2 separate regions of the Homo sapiens genome follow, and region 2 is linked to region 1. The links come from fine-mapping of genetic effects on gene expression. A gene starts in region 1. The other region holds a variant in brackets. All regions are shown on one strand. Distances are between the middles of the regions. Region 1 holds the start of NABP1 (nucleic acid binding protein 1). Region 2 has its middle 110 kb from the start of NABP1.

Region 1 (5,376 bases):
TTCACATAAGTAACACATCAAAAAGTGTAAATCAGACCATGTCTGGTGGCTCATGCCTGTAATCCCAGCACTTTGGGTGACTGAGACGGGAGGATCGCATGAGCTCAGGAGTTTGAGACCAGCCTGAGCAACACAGTGTGATTCCATCTCTACACAAAATAAAACAATTAGCTAAGGCGTGGTGGTGCACACCTGTAGTCCCAGCTACTTGGGAGGCTGAACCTGGAGGATCACTTTAGCAGAGGAGTTCCAGATTACAGTGAGCTATGGTGCAGCCACTGCATCCAGCCCGGGTGGGTGACAGAGTGAGACCTTGTCTCCAATACAAAAACAAAACCCAAAATAGTGTAAAGTGCTTATAAGTGTAAAATGCCTGGCCCATAGCAAGTGCTCAGTGTATTTGCATTTATCACTATAGGGATGATTTGTGTGGCTGTTGCTGCAATCATTACTAAACATTACTTCTGAGTCTTTTGGTTAAATTGTTTTAGGGAAATTAAGAAAATACTATTTGTTTGAGTTTTTTTTTTTTGTTTTTTTAGTTGCCAATTATGTTACAAAGTGGATTATACCTGTAAGGTGAGTGAGCACACTGTGGTTCTTGTTAATTTTTTAAATTGTTAAGTTTCACTATACAAGATATTTAAAATCAAACAGTACTTGGTACAAACAACTGTTTCATTGATGTTGTAATAGTTTTAAATAGATGGATAGTGAAAACAAAGTGAAAATAATTTTGGTAATTCCAGAAACCAAAACCTGGGAGTGAGCATGGGTACTGAGTGCTGGGTAAAATTTACAACAAAACCTTTATCAATGAGGACCCAGATAACAGAACCTTCTATGTCCAGGATTCTAATGGATGCCCTTCTGTATTACAGTGGATCTCACTAAGCATCTTTACACTAAAACATGGTGTTGAGGTTCTGGATGTAAAGTGGAAGAGTCCATCATCTCAGAGTAAGCTTATGTTTAGGCTGTGAAAAATGAAGGCTTGAAGAACAACAGCCTTAGAGAAAAGAAGACCATGAAGTAATCTTGTGTATGTATTAAAGAATCAGCAATATAATCATTATGACCTAAATGAGTAGACTGAGTGGCAGATCTATTTCACTGAATGGTAATATAAGAAAAGATATCTGCCTAGCAATAATTGTCTCCTTGACATCTCCTTTTTCTTTTTATTAACCACATCTTTGGGAGTGATTTAGAGGTAGCTGAAACCAACTAGCCTGGGCTGAACAGTTTCTGTATTGCCCAGACCATCTTGTTTCTCAAGGCTGCCTTTCGTTTTGGTTAATGAGAAAGCATATGGTTGCCATTTCCTTTCTGAGAACTGCTGAGTTAGTAGGGAAGGAAGTAGATGTTCAGCTGAGTTCTGTCCTGTGGGGGAAGGGAAGGGCTGAGCCACAGCTTGGAGTACCAGCTTCTGCTTTTGTGGGGCTTGATTTTCTGTGTCTGATTTCTTTTTATAAAATGTTCATATAATTAGCCTGAACAGCCCAACCTAATCCCTTTTCTGGGGGCAAATGATTGAGAGTTGAGTGGCAAACTTTCTTTGCCCAAACTCTTGGCCGTAACTCTTAACATTCTTAATTGGTTTCCTGTCTATTCTTAATCTTTTGAAGATCTTGTCAAACCTTAAAAAAAAAAAAAAAGAGCTCTGCCTTAAATATTGCTTCTGTGAGAATATTTTGCCTGTTTAAGAAAATACAGCTTTGAGTACAATCCAATTGAAGTGTCAAGTCCTGCCAGATAACCATGGTAGAATTAGAGCTTCTGAGCTGGATTGGGATTGAGGTTGGACGCTGGCTCTGCCATTAACTGGCATGTTTCATCATTTGTTTTATTTGATGTTGAAATTATGCTTATAATTTTATTTTACACCACTTTCCAGTATGACATCAGTGTCTTTGGCACCTTGGGCTTTATTAGTTCATGAAATGGAAGCTTCTGTTTCCTTAAAAATGCCTTGACTCTCTTGCTAATGTTGTGATAATGTTTCCAACTCTTTCTAGGGCTATAATATCTATGCTGCTTGTTTGCAAATACTTGGGAAGTGGTGGTTGATCTAAAGATACTCAGAAAGAATGGGGAGAAAATTAAGGCTTCTGACACTTTTCCCAACATTTCTGTTATCATCACCAAGAATTAACTAGATGATTCTTTAATGCCCCACTACTTTATTCTGCTATTTTATTTCTTCAGTCTGTTTTTGACTCTTATAATGACACCACTGGAAGTTAAGTCTAAACATTACCTTTAGGCTGGAGAGCTCTGGGGTCAAGATTGACTAGATTTAAAACCCAGCTCAGCCATTCTCTAGCTATCTGGTCTCTGGTGAGTTCCATCGCCTGTAAAACGGGGATTAAAAAGGGGAAAATACTGAGTATGTACTATTTGCTAGGCACTAGTTGGACAATTTATGATCCATTTAATCAATCTTCTGCTAGGCAGGGATCCCCATTTTATTATGGTTAAAAAGCTGTAATAAAAGCCAATTGACCTAAAGCTCTCACAAGTAAATAGCTGGAGCCCAGGTTTGTCTCTAAAGCACATGCTCTTTTCACTACGCGACATAAAAAAAACTTTATTAATCTTTTTTTCCAGATTATGTTTCAAGGGTTCCCACTGCTGTTGAATAATTAATTCCTTTTAGATGTACAAAAGCAAGTGCAAAGTAAAAGAAGAAAAGCTAAATGGGGAAGGTGTGTAATATGAGAGGCAGGGGGTAAGGAAAAATGAGAAGTCTGCAAAGGAATTTACGTCCTATCTGCTTAGCATTACACAGTGGAAGCCCACGTCAGACATTTGTGTTGCAGTCCTGCCTGCTCAGGGGTTGCTGGGTGACCTTCTGCAAATTACCTCATCTTTCTGGGTTTCAATTTAAGTATGCCTGAAATGAGGCGGTTGAATTGATCTCCAAATTCCCTTCTGGTGCTAAACTTCCAGCCTTGTAGCCACTGACGCCTTCACCATCCCAGCCTGTTTTCCCTTGGTACCGGACCAGCTGCCCTTGCCCGAACCCTGTTCTTCCTCGACTGCGAACTTTCTAACGTACTCACAGGTTCTAAACTCTACCGTTCCTCGTGACCGAGGGACTAAAGGGCCCGGGCAGGGGCTCAACTCTGAGAGAAAAAAAGGCAAGAAAACTCCAAAGTTGGACAGCAAGCGTCAAAAGACTGCACAGCAGGAAGGCGAAACCGAACAGAACTGCTGCTGCGCGGCGACAGCTGAAGTGGGTGGAGAACGGGAGGGCGGGGGAGGCGGGGCCGAGAGCGATTGGAAGGACGAGGGGGCGGAGCCCGCGCTGACAGCCCCCGGGGAGGAGCGAGGGAAGCTCTGCGGGCTGCGGCGGCCGGGTCCCGCCCCTTTGCTTCCCCTCCCCAGCACCAGGCGGGCGTGGCAGCAGGCGTGCCGACGCAGCGTGACTTCACAAGGGGAGGGGCGGGCCGAGGGTCCTGCCGGCGCGCGGGCGTGTTCATCAGTCGCTGTTTGGGACGCTGGGTGTGCGGTGTTCTGTCTCCGCTCCCGTTTCGCTGTCACAGCCCGTTCCTTCCCGGAGCCCGGGACAGGCTGGGCGCGCGCCCGTGTGAGTGAGCGGGACTCAGGGCAGAAGTGTCCCCTCACTGCGTTTTTTTTTCCTTTTATCCAAAGAACGGGGCAGTTAGTACGCTTGCCTTCCTGTCGCCCGGTTGGGAGCGGGGTTGGTGTGCGGAGTGGTTCGCCTTTTTTTCTTTAGAACTTGTGAGCCTTTTTTTTTTTTTTTTTTTTTTTTCTTTTTTTAGGCTCAGTGCTGTCCGGGCTGGTTTGCCCGGTCCCTGACTAACGGCTTTCTGCCCCTTCTCTCGCCACCCCTGCCCAAGGTCGCCCCTCTGCCTTCGCCCCTGTCCCGGGAGGGTGGGAAGCTTTGACCCCGCCCTGCCCACTCGCGTCTCCGCAGCCGTAGCCGCGCCTGTCCCAATATGAATAGGGTCAACGACCCACTTATTTTTATAAGAGATATTAAGCCCGGACTGAAAAACTTAAATGTCGTCTTTATTGTCCTGGAGATAGGTAAGTGGGGTTTGCAGCCTACTCCACCGCCCGCTGTGCCTCCCGGGGCGGGAGACAGGGGCGCCGGCCGCTGCGCGCCCGGGGCTCCCCTCCTCCTCCCTCCCCTCCCCCACCCACGTGGCTCTAGTGGCCTCCGCCCGAGATCGGATCCTACCTGAGGCGGGAGCCCTGGGCTTGGTCACTTCCCACCTTCCAGATGTATTAAAATACCGGAGGAGGAGTTAGCCTTTCTGGATGTCCTCATTATCTAACAACCCCTCCCTTTGATTTTTAAATCCTCACAGGACGCGTGACCAAAACCAAAGACGGCCATGAAGTGAGATCGTGCAAAGTAGCAGATAAAACGGGCAGCATCACTATTTCCGTGTGGGATGAGATCGGAGGTCTTATACAGCCAGGGGATATTATTCGGTTGACCAGAGGGTAGGTGTGCAAAAAAGTCGGGGGACCTAACAGTCTGCAGAATCGGGATTGGCCGGCTCCTGGGATCTTGGCAAGCCCTGAAGTCCCCCGCCTTTTCTGTGGGCCACTCTTGAGGAGTTTTGAACTCCTTTGGTGTTAACTTTGGGTGGTGGGCAGCGCTGGGATGTAACAGACCTTTGCAGTGAAAGGCAGTCGGTTTCAGCTGGGAAATCCGCGCCTCTACCCCGGTTTACAGGTTAAGTAGATTTTTAATTATTATTATTTTTTGGGACCGAGTCTCGCTCTGTCGCCAAGCTGGAGTGCAGTGGCGTGATCTCTCCTCACTGCAGCCTCCGCCTCGCGGGTTCAAGAGATTCTCGTGCCTCAGCCTCCCAAGTAGCTGGGACTACAGGCGTGTGCCACCACGCCCAGCTAAGTTTTGTATTTTTAGCAGAGACGGGGTTTCAGAGTGTTGCCCAGGCTGGTCTCCAACTCCTGACCTCAAGTGATCCGCGCGCCCCAACCTCCCAAAGTGCTGGGATTACAGGCGTGAGCCACCACGCCCGGCATAGATTTTTAGTTCTATTCTGAGTCAGTGAGTCTTTTTAGGAGACTGGTATAGTCCATATTTTTTCTTTTTTATAAGTTGTTTTCTCTAGTGTAGTTGCCACTCAGTTGTTTCCCACCCCTTCTCCATTTTTAATGACTTGAAATCCTGGCCAGTATTTTACATATGTTATTTAGAAATGTGGACATAAATGAAAATTATAGGTAAAGGATTTAGCATATTCTGTGATATGTCAAATTTGTACTTGGAAAAAGAGGGAAACTTTACAGTATCTGGAAGGCTCATTCTCCAAAATGATTTCTTGTGTCTTCTGCTGTAAGGTGGATGTTGCGCAAAAACCAAAGGGATAC
Region 2 (5,376 bases), 110 kb before region 1:
GCACCTGCTAATGGGGATAAATATTAGGAGATGAGGAAATGGATACAAGTAAATGCTTTCTCCAAAAACAAAGAAACCAAACTAGTGACCATAGGCAGAACTTGCTTCTAATGTTTGCACTCTGATACTGAAAGGTAACTGGACCTATGCATAAAATGTGACACCAATCTGATCATCTAGGTAGCCTGAAGATAGTATGTATTTTGGGGAGACTATTCTATTTCTAGTGCCCTGGAGGATTTCCCAAATTGTTCAGCTAAATGTAGGTTTAATTACCTCTTTACCATCACCACTCCATTACTGCCTCTGAATGATGACTTTGTGCATTTTTCACTTAAGGGTAATGAACTGCTCTCTTAATATGGTTCCATCATTCAACTTTGTTCTAGGGAGTTTCTTTATAGACAATTTTTATTTTAATCAGAAGTGAATGGGACTATTGCCTTTAAAGTGGACCATCTGTGGGTTTACCAGGAAATTTATTAACTTTGATCTTTATTCAATTTAACTTTCTGCCAGAGCTTCCAGTAAAGTTCTTTCAAGCCTGCAGAAAGCAGAGCTCAGAGCTCAGAAAGTGGGCTCTGTGGGAGGGGGAGAGGGGAGGATAAGAGAAGGGAGTGTATGGATACAGACTGCAATCCCAGTTTCAGCTGAGGTGGCAGTGGGGAGCTGGGAACATTATTCTGGAAGATCCTGGAGCAAGTCCTCAACTTGACTCCAGTTCGAGACTCCTCTGGGCTAGCAAGGTAATATATATGTATTTTTTTAAGAGATGGGCTCTTGCTCTGTTGCCCAGGCTGGAGTGCAGTGGAGCCCTCACAGCCCACCGCAGCCTTGAATTCTTGGGCTCAATTGATCCTCCCGCTTCAGCCTCCTGAGAAGCTGGGACTACATGTGTGTACAACCATGCCCAGCTAATTTATTTTTATTTTTGTTTTTGTTTTTTTGTAGAGATGGGGGTCTCATTCTGTTGACCAGACTGGTCTTGAACTCTTGGCTTCAAGTGAACCTCCCACCTCAGCCTCCCAAAGTGCTGGGATTACAAGCGTGAGCTACCGTGCCTGGCCTAGCAAGGTAATTTTAAACAGACACTGCCTTACCAATGATACAGCCTCAAAAGCCCTGATGCCAGCCTGAGCTGAATGTGATGAGCGTGAGGACTTATCCAGGCACTACCCACCTCTGCAACAAAACAGGGAGACAGGTGGGGAGTATCCACAATGCTGTGGATGGATTGGGCAGCAGGCAGAAGCTTCTGGCTTGTAGCTCACGCAGACCACTGCACAAGCTCTGCTCTTACAGCTTCCAAATTACTTTTCTGGCCTTTGAAGTGGAGCGATTTAGGATGCCTGCAGATCCTCCCCTGTTTAACAAATGCTCCCTGCTCTCAGTCCAGGGACCCTCACTCTTCCTGTCCTCTAACTCAGGACAGATTCCTGTCTATTATAGGTAGACAGGAAATCTTTTTGGATATCCAGGAAGATGGATATCCAAACTTCCCCAAGATCCTAGTCTATTTCCTTCCTTCCTTCCTTCCTTCCCTTTCTTTTTTCTCTTTTCTTTTCTCTTTCTTTCTTCCTTTCTTCCCTTCTTTCTTTCTTTTCCTTCCTTCCTTCCTTCCTTTTTCTTTCTTTCTTTCTCTTTCTTTCTTTCTTTCTTTCTTTCTTTCTTTCTTTCTTTCTTTCTTTCTCTTTTTCTTTCTTTCTTTCTTTCCTTCCTTCCTTCCTTCCTTCCTTCCTTCCTTCCTTCCTTCCTTCCTTCCTTCCTTCCTTCCTTCTTTCTTTTCTTTTCTTTTTCTTTTCTTTCTTTTTCAACTTTATTGGGGTAAGTGATTTATAGTAAACGGCAGAGATTTAGTGTGTGGTTTCACAAGTTTTGACATATGTGCTTACCCAGGAAACCGCCACCTCAGTCAAGATAATGAACATTTCCTTCACCCCGAAAGTTTCATAGTTGCCCCCTTTGTAAGACCTCCTTCTTTTTGCCCCATCCCCAGTCTGCTTTCTGTGACTATAGATTACTCTGCGGTTTCTAGGATTTTATGAAAATGAAATCATCTTTTCTTGTCTGATTTCTTTCACCTAGCATAAATATTTTGAGATTCATGCATGTGGCTGCATGTATCAATAATTCATTCCTTTTTACTCCTGAGGATTAATCCACTGTATGGATCCATCACAGTTTGTTAATCCATTGAGGAATCATTCCTTCTGTTTTGTTTTATAAGATCACGAAGCGTTAGATGTGTAAGGGGCATTATAGGTCACTTAATCTAAGAAAATCATCAGTTATCTGTAGTTATCTACCTACAGATTAGGTAACTGAAGCCAGAACACTACTTAAGAATTTCCCTGGAAATTGTTTAAAATTGAGATTCATACCTATTCCTGCCGTTTGATTCTGATGGTGGAGTGAATCCTGGGATTCTGCAGTTTTAGCAACAGCCTCTGGTGATTCTAATCCAGATATATGGTCTACTATACTTAAAACACCGAATTATTTAAATATTGAGGTCGTAGAAGGTTAGGAGCAAAGGCTGGATTTAAATCCACAATTTTTGATTTCTAAGTTTAGGGCTCTTTCTACTACATTATGTCAACCCCAAATAACATCAGACACATGGAAGCCTGACGCTGTCTGCTAGCGTAAATCTCTTTGTTTTCTCATCAAAGAAATGCCACAGCTCGATTCCAGGCTACATTCTTGTGTTTCCAGAAGAGGGTACTGATAACAAATCCTTTCTTTAATGCACGTATTTCTTTCTCTTACTCTCTCTCCCCACCCCCTCTCTCCTCCCTTCTTTCTTCCTCTGCTTGTTTTTGTTTTGTTTTGTTTCGTTTTGGGTTTTTTGTGGGGTTTTTTTTCTGGTCATTAAAGTTGCAAATATGAAAAGCAACAAAGTGAGACCTGGGAAAATGAGTTTACTTCAATAAAAAGCCAAAGTCCCTGGAGAAATTTCTTGACATCATTA[C/T]ATTTTTAATACAAACTTGCCTGTAAGTGCTGTCACTTACTGGCTTCCAGTCACTAATTTTATGAGTCAGCACTTTCCCTCAGTGACTTCCTCAAAATTATAGGAATAGGAGGGGCTGGACAGAACATGCAGAAGTAAGAATGCTGAAAATTTAACCAGAGCTGAAGAAACGTTGACCTTTAGGAACAACAATGACCAAAAATGTCATCTAGTTATCTTACTCCCTATCTCTTTCCATTGGGTAGTTAGGGAGGAAGCCATAAGCCTAACTTGGTATATATATATATATATATTTTTTTTTTTTCCCTTAAGTTATTATAATTCCAGTGACCCTTGGGCTGCCTTCCTCCAAACTCTGAAAATTTGAACTCAGGCAGTGGGGCCTGAACCCTTACTTGATACCTGGTGTCTGAGAATGTTGTTTCTAAGCAAGGATATCAAGATCATGAAAAACCAAGCAGTAACATATCAAATGAAAGAAGAGACATGAGTCCAACTCAAGCTGCCAGAAAAATTTAATTCATCTTTGATAGTTTGGGCATTTTCCTAACAATATTTTTATGACAAATTGGGTAATTCAAATGTGCTGGCTACCTTTGAAGCCCTAGAATGAAAGTGAGCTTTTGCCTCATGAGATAAAATAAGACAAGGCTTTGAGAATTCAGTCGCCCCACCCTGGGTAGAATTGTGAGAAGGCACACTGTGTCCCTAGGACCCTCAGACTCACTTCTTTGAAACCTTTTCTTTCCCCACTCTTACCAGGTATGGGGGCTCCATTGCTCTCCTCATTGGATCCTTAGTGTGAGTGACACAGAGTCTTATTATCCTATGCTGTCTACGTTTGCATTTGAACATTAATTGTGGCAATGACAAGCTTTGTCTTTGAGTCACAAGGCTTGGAAATAAGACAGAAGATTGGTAATTAGAAGTTCTAATCTGTGTTCATCTACTTATCACTTGTGGGCCCTTAGGCGAGTCATTTAACCTTTATGAGTCTATTTTCTCATGTGTCAAATAGTAACGATGATAGTAATATGCACATTTGTGAGTGGCTATAGGGACTAGAGATTAGGTATATAAAGTACCTGGTCCATAAATGGTAGTTAAAGGCATGTCGGCCATGCGGGTGTCAGGCATGCAGATGATGGAAAATTTGGGACTTCTCCTATTGACAAGAGGACTTTTCTAGTACAACTGAAACTGGCTTATTAGAATGGAGAGTGGTAGCTGCCTACTCAATTAGGGTGGGCCTATGTGTTTTGCCCTAATGCCTCATGTCTACCTAATTTCTCTTTGTGTCCATTGTAATCATGGAGCCCGAATCTTTGGATCATTTATGAGAGTCATAAATCTAACTGGGTGAAAGTGGAATTGAGAAGAGACTCCAATGTATTTGTGAGACCAGGTACTTAAGGGTTGCTACATTTGAAACACAATTATAGAATACATACATATACAGAATGACAAATGATTTCCACAAGTTTGACAAGGAAACTAATCTTATTACTTTATGGTCACACTTCTGTGACAATGCAACTTAATTTTGCCAAAATGTATTTCTATGTTTATGCACATATACATGCTCCTCAATGGCCTATTTCTATACTCACCCAAATTGTATATAATCACAAAAAAACTGTCTTTTTTACAATACAGTTTATTTATTGCACTTCTTAAAGGCAGAAACATTCATTGTGATTTCTGTTCTCAGGTAATGAGAAGCTGTGATAGATATTAACAGAAGAAACTTTGAGTGGAAAGTTCTCCAGATTTTCTCACTGCCTCTCTCCAAATTTGATATGCTGTAATATTTTTAGTCTTATTATTATAGTGTCAGGGTGGAGATGAATCATATTGAGAGGAAGAGGTAAAGTGTTAGACTCTAAAAGTGTGTAAACAGCCATCAAGGGAAATTCTGAAGCATCCTAGTGCTTGGGGAAGGTTTAAGGAGTTTATTCTTGGCACCGTTGCCTATAATCCATAATTAGCAACCCATTGATATGGTATTTGTTAAATTCCTACATTGTAGGTTAAGACTATTGAAATTGCAGTACACCAGTGGGAAAACAGACTACAATATTCACACTGGCATAGATTTCAGTCTCTGGGAGTAGGTAGTTTGCCTGAAGCCAGATAGTTCTTAGGAATCAATAACCTCATTAGCCCCAGGAGACTGGATCTCTATACTTTGTAGAGTGGTACAGTTGCTGGAACATCTGCCAATGGGCACCTGCCTTAGTGGAAAGAGAATTATTTTTTTGTAGGCATTAAAGCTCAGAATAATTCAAAAACATTCCTCTAGGTACTGAACAACTATTTATCAATCTTACAGATGGAATTATTGCTGTCTCTGCCCGAAAGCCTTTGTTGACGTCTCCTTCCAATCAGTCAGCTCAGGGTTTAAT

The links. PIP is the estimated chance that this variant, and not a neighbour inherited with it, causes the effect. A credible set is the group of variants that fine-mapping cannot tell apart.
Region 2: its variant is the best candidate, but not a certain one, in a credible set for the expression of NABP1 in whole blood (TOPMed, PIP 0.68).

The regions. Positions count from the first base shown.
Region 1 is chr2:191,674,650-191,680,025 of GRCh38, forward strand. NABP1 (nucleic acid binding protein 1) reads left to right here and starts at 3,487. Exons shown (of 6, transcript NM_001031716.5): 1 at 3,487-4,056; 2 at 4,341-4,479. The coding sequence starts at 3,966. RefSeq lists silencers at 1,094-1,388, 3,179-3,528, 4,129-4,188 and enhancers at 1,336-1,445, 3,039-3,118, 3,328-3,830, 4,658-5,376.
Region 2 is chr2:191,568,570-191,573,945 of GRCh38, forward strand. No RefSeq gene overlaps it. Among named protein-coding and RNA genes, the nearest start is that of NABP1, 110 kb to the right of the region's middle. The variant C/T (reference allele first, on the strand shown) is at 2,972.